Homo sapiens: one gene and its partner. The protein of the gene in region 1 purifies or fractionates together with the protein of each later gene. This does not show direct contact. Each region holds a gene or a part of one and is shown on either strand. Other genes may lie near its edges.

The links.
Region 2: the proteins of CPLANE2 (region 1) and PKP1 purify together in Homo sapiens (affinity purification with mass spectrometry; 2 studies listed by BioGRID and IntAct, with this or other methods). This does not show direct contact.

What each region holds. Positions count from the first base shown.
Region 1 is NC_000001.11:16,230,921-16,234,205, forward strand, and holds the end of CPLANE2 (ciliogenesis and planar polarity effector 2), read right to left. Parts: intron 2,845-3,285; coding exon 2,692-2,844; intron 2,098-2,691; coding exon 1,973-2,097; intron 1,727-1,972; coding exon 1,590-1,726; coding exon of another isoform or gene 1,579-1,589; intron 1,378-1,578; coding exon 1,128-1,377; 3' UTR 772-1,127; downstream 1-771. UniProt on the Homo sapiens protein: Required for efficient primary cilia initiation, regulating a late step in cilia initiation. Plays a role in the final maturation of the mother centriole and ciliary vesicle that allows extension of the ciliary axoneme.
Region 2 is NC_000001.11:201,314,456-201,321,748, reverse strand, and holds part of PKP1 (plakophilin-1), read right to left. Parts: intron 5,197-7,293; coding exon 5,052-5,196; intron 4,178-5,051; coding exon 3,970-4,177; intron 3,132-3,969; coding exon 2,954-3,131; intron 1,934-2,953; coding exon of another isoform or gene 1,871-1,933; intron 1,483-1,870; coding exon 1,368-1,482; intron 1-1,367. UniProt on the Homo sapiens protein: A component of desmosome cell-cell junctions which are required for positive regulation of cellular adhesion.

The DNA of each region.
Region 1 (3,285 bases):
CTCACGCCCTGACCCCCACTGGGATGGTCGTTGGCCCTGCATGGTGCTGCTTTCGGGTGCCCCTGGGCTGCCAAGACTCCTATCCTAAGCCTGGCCTGACAACTCCATGATCAAGAAAGGCATTGCAGGCCGGGCGCAGTGGCTCGTGCCTGTAATCCCAGCATTTTCGGAGGCTGTGGCGAGCGGATTATTTGAGGTCAGGCGTTCGAGACCAGCCTGGCCAACATAGTGAGACCCCCATCTCTACTAACAATACAAAAATTAGCCAGGCATGGTGGTTGGCATCTGTAATCCCAGCTACTTGGGAGGCTGTGGCAGGAGAATCGCTTGAACCCAGGAGGTGTAGGTTGCAGTGAGCTGAGAGTGCACCACTGTACTCCAACCTGTGCCACAGAGCAAGACTCTGGAAAAAAAAAAAAAAAAAAAAAAAAGGGCCCTGCAGCGCGACGGGCTTAACTCCTGGACTCACAGGTGGACTCCATGTCCCAGCCTCCCCCACAGCGCCACATGACCACATGACTGCTGGGTGCTGGCCTCTGGAATGTGGGCAGAATGAGGTGCCACCCTGGGCCTGGTCCACAGAAAGCGGGGGGACACCTCCTGCCTGCACTCACTCCCTGGCTGCTGACTGGGTGCTGACACCCTAGGGCAACTGGGCAGGGTAGGGTCTCTGGGGCTGGGTCTCTGCAGGAGCGCCTGGAGCAGAGCCCCACGCCCACTGTCACCTCCTCCCGAGCTGAGGCCTACGTGAGAACGAACACGTCTCTGGAGTTCAGCACTGGGATTTCGGGGTTTATCTGTTACAACAGATGGTGTCACCTCAACCAATACAGGTTCTTGATTGAAGTAACTTGAGAGGCACCCCCTCTCCCAGTCATCCTCCATCGGTGCTGCCAAAGGGGGAAAGGCCACGGGAGATGTTCGAGCTCAGGGCCTTGGTCCCCACCTCCCTGCCATGAATTCTGCAAGGAAAGCGCTGCTCGCGGGTGGGCCTTCTCTGGCCACATCCTCCCTGATCAGGCCATGCTGGCCAGTCCTCCAGATAGGATCCATGTTCCTGCCCCAGCCTCCAGCCCTATGTCGAGACCTGAGGGTTGGGGGTGGGATCACAGGCAACCACTCGTGACTCATTCAGGAGCACTCTCTGGGGGGTTGGGAAGCAGGCCAGCCGCCACCTGGTCCTGGTGCCACAGCTGCTCAGCAAGGCCATTGAGTATGTGGGCAACGTCGGCCAGCCCAGCCCGCCCGTCCAGTGTGCGCCCATCAGCCAGCCGCCGCCCCGGCACACTCTTCACCCGTAGCAGGGGCAGCTCCCAGGCCTGCCGGAAGGCTGTGAGGTCCCGCTCGGGCACGTCCGTGTGCATGTACTGGTCAAATCTGGAGGAGGGTCAAGGAGCCTAACTGGGTGCCTCTGCACAGCCCCCCATCAGACCCTGCCTCTCCCTCCTCCCTGGAGCCCACACCCAGGAGCTGGGGTAGCCATGCTGTACCCTTTAAGTAAAAGCCCAGGTGCTGAATTCCATGCCTGGGCAGAGGCTGGGCCCCTGACCCCCTGGCTCCGTGACTTGCCAAGGATATCCAAAGGATACTTGGAGCCGATGACCATCCTGACGACACCAGGGGCCTCACCTGCTATGCGGGCCAGCTGTCCAGGGAGGTCTTCAAAGGAGGCACGGTCAGTGAAGGAGAAGAGGAAGAGGAAGGCATCTGTGTTCTCCATGCAAGCCTGGTGATGGAGAGGCATATAACCATGTCACCCCCCATCAGCTGCAGGGCCCTCAGAAGAATCAGGAATAATCCCTCCTTTCACAGATTGGGAAACTGAGGCCCAGAGCAAGGAGCGGCTGGTCCTAGGACAAGCATGGGCTGGGACTGTCTCCAGTGCCAGCTCAGGTCTCTGAGCAGTGCCTTGAGCTCATTAATACCCAATCGGCCCCTGGCAGAACCCACCCAGGCCCACATGCCTGCTCACCAGCAGCATATGATCGAACTTTTTGAGTGCAGACTCTCCACAGTCCCAGAACTCAAAACGAAACATGACGACACGGCTGCTGGCCTGCAGCTTGGCTGGCCAAAATACCACGGTGGTCTGGATGCCTGAGGGGGAGCCAGGGTCAGCCACTCACCATGGGAGAGGTGGAGATGGGAGGAATAGGGGACCAGGAAGGAATAGGAAGAAGAGATACATCCCTGCCCTGATGGGTCCCTAGTTTGATGAGGGAGGCACAGTCCTTGACCCGGGATAATTCTCAGTCTGATGGGAGAAACAGAAACTGGCCCTGGAGGAGACTCTGGTACACCAGGAAGATGCAGCCCTAGCTATGGCAAAGCAAGTTTCGTTTGTATGTCCAGGGAGACCCAAAGGGCCCAGGACGCTGGGAGATGTTTCAACATGGTGGAACAATCAGCATCCAGTGGTGAGAAACAACAAAGCAAGATTAGCATTTCCTGAGCATTTACCTTGAGCGTAGCTTGATGCTAGGCATGTTACCACCACCACCACCTCTAGTGGCAACCACACAACAACCCTGTGGTACTATTATCCCCTTGGGACCAAGGAGCCCATGTAGGCTCAGAGACGTGAAGTGACTTTCCAAGGCTACAGAGTAAGAGGTGGTCCAGGGCCAGGTTCTTGCCTCCACCCCCAAGGAGGGCCTCCCAGGATGGGCAAAGGATAGAGGTCCCACTCACCGGTGGTCTCGTGGTGCACCACAGGCACCTCCAGGCCAGCCAGCTTGGCCACCAGCGCCGTCTTGCCCACACCACTCTTCCCGGACACAAAGATCTTGTAGCTGGCAGTGTCAATGGACACAGGCGGCAGCAGCACTGGCCGCTCAAGCAGCCCTAGGGCAAAGAGAGAGCCAGGCAGGGTCAAGGGGTGCTGTGGTTTGAAGGTGTCCCCCAGAGTTCATGTGTTGGAAACTTAATCGCCAATGCACCAGTGTTAGGAAGTGGGGCCTAACACAAGGTGATCAGCTGCCCTCATAAATGGATTAATGTTGTTATTGAGGGAGTGGGTTTGTTATAAAAGCCAGTTTGGGCGCCTCTTGCTGTCTTGCTGTTGCCCTTCTGCCTTCTGCCACGGGATGACACAGCATGAAGGCCCTTTCCAGATGCTGCTGCCATGTTCTTAGACTTCCCAGCCTCCAGAACCATGAGCCAAATAAGCTTCTGTTCATTATAAATTACACAGAGGAGGCCTGGTGCGGTGGCTTACACCTGTAATCCCAGCACTTTGGGAGGCCAAGGCGGGCAGATCACCTGAGGTCAGGAGTTCGAGACCAG
Region 2 (7,293 bases), about 190 Mb from region 1:
TGGGCCTCAGCTATCTCAAATGTAAAATGAGACTACAATTGTCCATTTCACTAGGCTATTTGGAAGATGATACAGAGAAAGCACTTATCACAGGGCCTAGTGTGTGGTAGGACTGCTATGGACAACATGCCAATGGGCAGACTGGGATATTGAAGAATGTGTCTTTTTTTTTTTCCAGAACAAACTCCTCCAGAAGAAGCCCCATGCCTCTAGATTCCAAAGCCATCTAGTGCCCCCATCATTCTTTCTTCCTGGGGCCAGTCCTTAGCTGTCAATGTCAGCGGTGCTAAGTCCACACAAAACACAGCAACACCTGGAGCCCAGGGCTTCATCATGGCAGCTGGGCTCAGATCTTTGTCAATCTCCTTTGGCAAACCTCCAAAGGACTAGGGTTTGGGGGCAGCAGATTTACCCTCCTAATGATGTTTGGCCCTTGCTGGGGTCTAAGGGAATCTGACTTCCAGGGCTTGGGGTTACACAGGTGTTGGAGATATTGCACACAGAGCAGAAAAGCATCTTGCCCTTTGGAAGCAGGCTGAGCAGCCCAGTGACAAGGCTCTCCTCTGTGGCCCTGCTGTTGCTTCCAGTGGAGGGAGCAGGAGATAAAATCCCTCCTTACGGCAACTGTGCTGAGAACCCAGGTGCTGTGATGTCAGCCCGTTCCCTGGCGATCTGGAGCCTGCTGGGCCTCACTATCTCCTGAGCCACTGTCCTGCCATGGTGGGAACATCTCAGCCTTCTGTTTATCTGCCCTCCACAACTTTTTTTCTTTCTGTTTGTCTGTGCTGTGTGTCCAGAAGTCCAGAGAGGGCAGCAAGATGACTGCCAATGGCTTTTCTGGGAGGCAGTGGGAAGATAGCAGTGGCAGAAGGAGCCTCATCTCAGGGGGGACACTAAGCCCTGGGGGCACCAGTATGGATTCCTCTGGGCTGTGGGGCAGGGCTCGGGGTCACAGGACAGGCCTCAGCACCACCAATGAAGCACAGCCAGCAGATGCTCGCTGGGAGCTTCCTCTGTGCCAGGCCCTCTTCGTGTTTTGCTTATTAACTAATCAAGCCTTTCAGACAACCCTTGAGGTTGATATGATTATGACCCTTTCCATTAGAGTGAAGAGTGAACCGGGAAACAGAGAGATTAGGGAAGCAGCTGCATCTACTCCACTTCTAAGTGAGGGAGAGTGGATTTGCATGGGCACGCTGTCCCCAGAGCCCACTCCTGTAGCCACCACTGAGCCCTGCATCCAGATGCCTCTTCTACCACCCCTGAGTCTGTGCTCCTGTCTTGTCACTGGGCCAGGCCTCAAAGGCACCCAGAAAATGTAGGGGGCTGGGCCTAGGGGTCAGGGTGCCACCAGGGGATGCACTCACCTTGTCGTCACAGCGGCTGGCCGCTACACAGTTCTGGACATAGGCCATGAGGGAATCAATGAGCCCTGAGTAGTTACGCATGGTCTGGCGGCCTGCATCGGCCGAGCTCAGGTTCCTGGGGGAGAGAAGAGGGTGGAAGAGGGCAGAGAAAGGGGGAAGAGAGAACGGGGAAGGTGGGGACAAGAGAGTGTGGTGGGGGACAGGCAGGAGAGAGAACAGGCAGGAGAGGGGAGGGCAGAGAGGAGACGACGGGGTGGAGATTGGAAGTTGTGGTAGAAGGAAGGAAGGAGAAGAGGAAAGGGAGGAAAGGAATGAAGAGAGGAAAAGATGAAAACGGAAGGAAAGAGAAACCATTTAGCCAATTCCGCCTGGCCCTGGCTGAGGCTGAAATGAGGTCTCATTTGCACTCAGTTCTTCTCCTCCTTCACTCTGCCCAGTAACTTTATAACTGGCAATGGCTCCATGTGGCAACGGTCCCTCCGCAGCTGCATCCCAAGGCTCACACCCTGCTACTAGTGGCCCTTTGCGGAACAAGAGCCAGAAGCTCCCGCATGCCCAGTCTCTTTCTGTGGGACAGGAAGAAGCCCTGTTGATGCTGGATCAGAAGTGGATCTGGGGGTGGCCGGGCTGGGCACCAGAAGCTCCCTCTCCACCCAAGCTGTGTTCTGCCCCCAGCAGTAGGCTCACTCCCAAGCAATGTGGGCTCATCCCCAAGCAATGTGGGCTCATCAGCCTGGTGCAGGTGGGGTGTGGCTGCTGTTGCTACCAGTAGCACATCAACCCCATAAAACTCTTAATTATCCTCACTTTTCATCTCCCCAGCCTCTCTGCTTCCTGGAGGCTGCTACCGGAGGCTGGCAGGGAGAAACACAAGTTGAGACACAGAGGCACATGCCAGCTGCACCCACCACTCTGGGGGGATTCTCAGGAGTTGGGAAAGACAAATCCCATTAAAGCAAGACAAACCCCATTAAAGACCCTAAAAGGGATCCTGCTCCAGGGTTCCAAGCCCTGTACCAGCCGCCCCTCCACACCCACCCATTTCGCCAGCTTGTAAACCACTGCTTCTAGAACAAGCCCTCCCACCAGCCCCACAGGGGCTTTGCCACACCCTGGTATGGAACTTAGGCAACTTTGGGTGAAGCAGTGCCATCTTCATGCCAATGAACATGGCAAATGGTTTTAACACCACAGCTGGGAAGTGACTCATTAGCAACCCATCGGTAGACTTTTGTCTAAAAGAACACTCTTCAAGATGATAGCACAAGAAATGCATTTTTTTTCATGGGGTGGAGGAGGGAAATGGTTGAACCAGTTTGGATATTCAGATCTAGGCATTTTCAAGCTCAGATTTCTGACTAATGTCCGCTGCATTCTCTCAAAGGGGGTGGTAGGGTCCTGGGCCTTATCCAGTTCCAGGGAAGTTAGGAAGGCCTGAGTCCCTGTGTCTTGGAGCCTGCCCATAAGAGGGAGTGCCGGGTTGTCTGTTATGTTCTATGCACCGGCTGAATGTTGGCTGAGATGGGGCTGCCTGGGGAAGGGCCCAAGGCTGGGACAAAAAGACCCCATGTATCCTCTTCTCTCACCTCAAGCAGCCTGTGGCATTGAAGAAGACCTCAGGGTCCACCACTTCCCGGGACATGTTGCTATTGCCATCGCACCAGCCAGAGAAGGGAATGATGACGCGGTCGGCCAGAACAGGCAGGGCGTCGGCAATGAGTTCCTCCTTCAGCTCGTCAGTGGAAGACAGGTTCCAGAGCAGCCCTGGGGGTCAGAGACCATCAACCCAATTTGTGCCAGGCTCAGGATGCCCTAGGGACCGAGGTAACAGCCCCAGCCTGGACTCTGGCAAATGGGCCCTACTGAAATGTCGCTTTCCAGGTAGCCCTGGTCTGTAGAACCTATTGTCTGTCTGTGTCATGAGGCTATTTCTCAATGCCCCAACCAGACTGAAGGTTCTTTGCAGGCAGGGAACATCTCAGAGTTCTCTGTCAAGGCCAAAATTATGCATGTGGAAAGTGATCAAAAAACGTTTGATTGATCAGTGGTTTTTAGTATAAATTTTAGCACTTGGAGTCTTCTAACGCTGTCTCTTTTCCATCTGAAAGTTATGCCAGAAATACTTATCAGTCATTACTCTGTACATGGTCTGATCTTCCCAGCCCAATTCTAGGTCTTCACGGTGACCTCTTCCTCTTGTGCCCCCCACCTTGAGTGCCTACCATATTTCTTGAACACAGGGTAGGTGCTTAAGGCCTGTTAACCCCTTCTCCCCTCAGTCTTACTCTCTTTCCATCACCTGGGAATCCCAGGGCTTGTGGAATATGGATCTTGCCTGGACATCAGCCTTCCTCCTTTTGCTCTTTAACCTCAAAAAGATGGTGACCCCTTGTGTGTGCACACCACCCAAGGTCACCCTCTGGACACCCCTAATTGGGCCAAGGCCAGTGTCACTAAACTCTCAGGATATTAGCCCTGGGCCAAATCTGCACAGCTGTGTCTTGGCCCAGCCTGGAGAGACAGGCTTGCACCCCAGCCTGGGGCCATAGCCAGTGGCCTTGCACAGCCCTCAGGCTGGCTCTCGGTGGCCGTGTTGTCCTACCAGTCAGCTGCTTCTGGATCTCGGCGTTCCCGGTTCTCCTCAGGAGGCTGACTGCCTCGCGGATCCCATTCTGCCTCCGGGTCTCCAGCTTGTTGGTGGTGCTCCTGAACACCAGGTTGCGCAGGGCCCCTGCCGCGGCCTGCTGGACGTTCTGGTTGGGGCTGCGGAGGAGGTCCACCAGCTTGCAGATGCCTCCCAGCTGATAGACCTGCCAGGAAAGAGTTGCCACGCTGCCTGGTCAAGGGAGATGAGGCTGATCTAGTTATTCTCTACTCAAAGGTGATTTTTTTTTTCAGACCAAAAAATCTATCAGTTCAGAAATATTCAAGTCAACCAAAATAAATAAGCAGTGTGAGGTCATGATAACTGACCCAGACCCGGAGGCAAAAGACCTGGATTCAGATCCTAGCTCCCATATCCTAGCTCCCATATCCTAGCTGGGAGAACCTCAGCTAGGGTCCCTCCTCTTTCCTGAGTCCTGCTTTCTTCCTCTGGAGAATGATGGTGAGGACCTGATAAGAGAGTGGATGTAAATACATTTCAAAACCCTAAAGCAGAACACAGACATAGAAATGCATACAAACTTATCCGGGACTCTGGGAAACTCATTTTTGACACTACATCCTTGGGCTGAACTGAAGAACCCTGTAGTGTCCTTCCTGCCAGCAAAGCTTTGGAGGCATCAACAGGCCTGTTTTCTACCGTAAGATGCCTGGAGAGAGAAGGGGAGTGGGAGAGAGGAAGCAGGTAGGAGGGCAGGAGTTGAGAGGTGAGGAGCAGTCATGTTCTTTAGTGGGATTTGAGAAAAGGGGTTTCTGTTGAACCCGTGGCTGGCATTGAAGTCTCTTCCATGACCAATGGAGGAATTGTACCTGCCTAATGTCCACTTAAACAGAGGGCTTTGCTCTGCAGAAAGTTAAGATGCCCAGCTCTAACCTTGGGCAATGCGAAGGCTCCTGGCAGCTGGGCAAGGCAAGAGAAGCCAACTGCAGATGCCCTCACCCATCTCTAAAAGCGGAGTCAGGCTGACACACCCAGGCCCTCCGCAGGCCCACCAAGGAGGAAGGTATGCAACCAGCTACCTGTTGCTTGGCAGATTCATCCTGGAAGCAGGTATGCTGGATGTAATAGGCCCCAATGGCCTGGTACTTCTCATCCTGGGAGCTCAGGTACTGCACAGCCTTGGGGATGGTCAGCCCACTGCACTCGATGTCCTCACTGCAGATCCTGTGAAGAATAGGCAGTGGGGGTGGTTACGGGGTGGGCTGGGAGCCCTGCTGAGGGGGCTCAGAATTCCTCCCAGCACACTAAGCTGCCACAGCCTCATCTGCCCTCTGGAGAGCCAGAACAAGGCAGCCCAGGCCCACTTGGAGAATACCCCTGGGAACAGCTCCTCTCCTCCAGAGGAGGGAAGGCTACACCCACTGGATTTGCCCCATGTGAGAATAGTGAGCCCCTGGTCACAGTTAATGTCCTAGCAGGTATGTTATCTCTCCACTGAGGAAAAACTCCTCCCTATTCCCTGAGGGGAAGCTTCCCACCTACCTTGCCATCTCTCTTGTTTGTGTCTGGTATTAGGAAAATGGAAGACAATGGCCATGATCCTATCCATCCATCCATCCATCCATCCGTCCGTCCATCCGTCCGTCCGTCCGTCCATCCGTCCATCCATCTGTCCATCCATCCGTCCGTCTGTCCGTCCATCTGTCCATCCATGCATCCATCCATCCATTTATCCATCCATCTATCCATCCCCAAGTCCAGCTGGCTCTTACACAAAAATGTTCACATCTAGCCTTTCTTCCCATTCTTATAGCCACCAATTTCCTGATCTTGATCACTTTAAAGGCAGCAAGGGACTTCCATATTTGGCTTTCTTCCTCAAGTTCCCCCATCTAAAATTTCATACCCTTTTTACTAGATAAGTGGTTCTAAAACCCAGTTCACTGTGTTGTTCTCTAGCTCAGAAACCATCAGCGGCTTCTCCATACTTCAGGTTCAAGTTTAAACAGCTTAGCCTGATGTCCAAGGGCAGGTATTAGGTTGAATCATAGGAAATGTCTGTAGTCAACCTTTTTTCAGCCATAAAACCAGAAATTTCATATGTTTTAACCTAATAACCCGGCTCCACTATGAACATTCCCCAGCCCCTATCCAGGGTCTGCTCCAGCAAGACTGTCCCCTTCACTGTACCCTGGCCAGGTCTCAGGCATGCCTCAAGGCACACCACTGGCCCTGCTGATGCCCCACATCTGTGAAGCCTTCCTAGGGAAGGGAAACCTCTCTTCTAAGAACCTCTCCAGCTCCCCTGGTGTAGAGTCACAGGGTGGTGACTGGCTGTGTCCAGCATTCAAAGAGGGAGCCCTATCCTTATGCTTTGACATACTTGGTGGTCAATAAATACCCATGGTTTTAGCTATAGCAGCCCAACTTCATTTCTAGGAAAACCACCCGAGGTGCAGAGTTCTCTGGCACTGGGTAAGTAGTACTGCTGCCTGCATTGAGAGAATGTCACCCTGCATTCATCAGTAAAATGTCACCCCAAAATGGCTTGACACTCATCCCTTCCATATCTCACCTAGAACCTCCACTCAGGGCCTCTGGTTGGGACAATGAGCTGAAGCCAGAGGCTGCCCTGATCAGCCTCCAAGACAGAGAGGTTTCTTAGTTCTTCTCCAGATCATCCTAAATACGCCTTACGGCCATCAGGTAGTTCGGAAACGTCTAGCTCTATAACGGGGTTCTGCTTATTTTCAGAACAGTGTGGTACCAGTAGGGAAGAGCACAGGATGGAGAGCCAGCTGTGTGGCCTTGGACAAACTACTTAACATCTCTGTGCCTTGTTTTCTCCTCAGGAATACTCATGCCTGCCTGGTGGCGGGTGTGAGGATTAAAGATGAAGAATGCAAAGCTCCTGAGGCTCTCAGAAAAGGAGTTAATTGTGTAGCTCCAGAACAGCTCTGGGTTGTCCCTATCATGGCTGTGTCTCCCGCACTTGTCAAAGAGCCTGGCATGTAGTAGATGGTCGGCAAACATTTGCCAAATAAATAAATAACAAGAGCAGTAGGTGGTGATGAAGGACAGTTCAAAGGTTCAGGGAGCCCCCAGCCCTGAAGGGCAGGCTCAGTGTCACTCACGACACCTCTGCGTCTATGGCTCCTAACGGGGCACCCCATTTGGTCTCCTTTGTTTCCTCTGGGTGATGGCCTTCCACATGTATGCACAGGAGTTGTGCTCTGTTCTGTAGCAGTAGATCATGAAGCCCCATGAAGTCCCTCAGGGTTTTTGTTGTTGTTGTTGTTGTTTGTTTGTTTGTTTGAGACA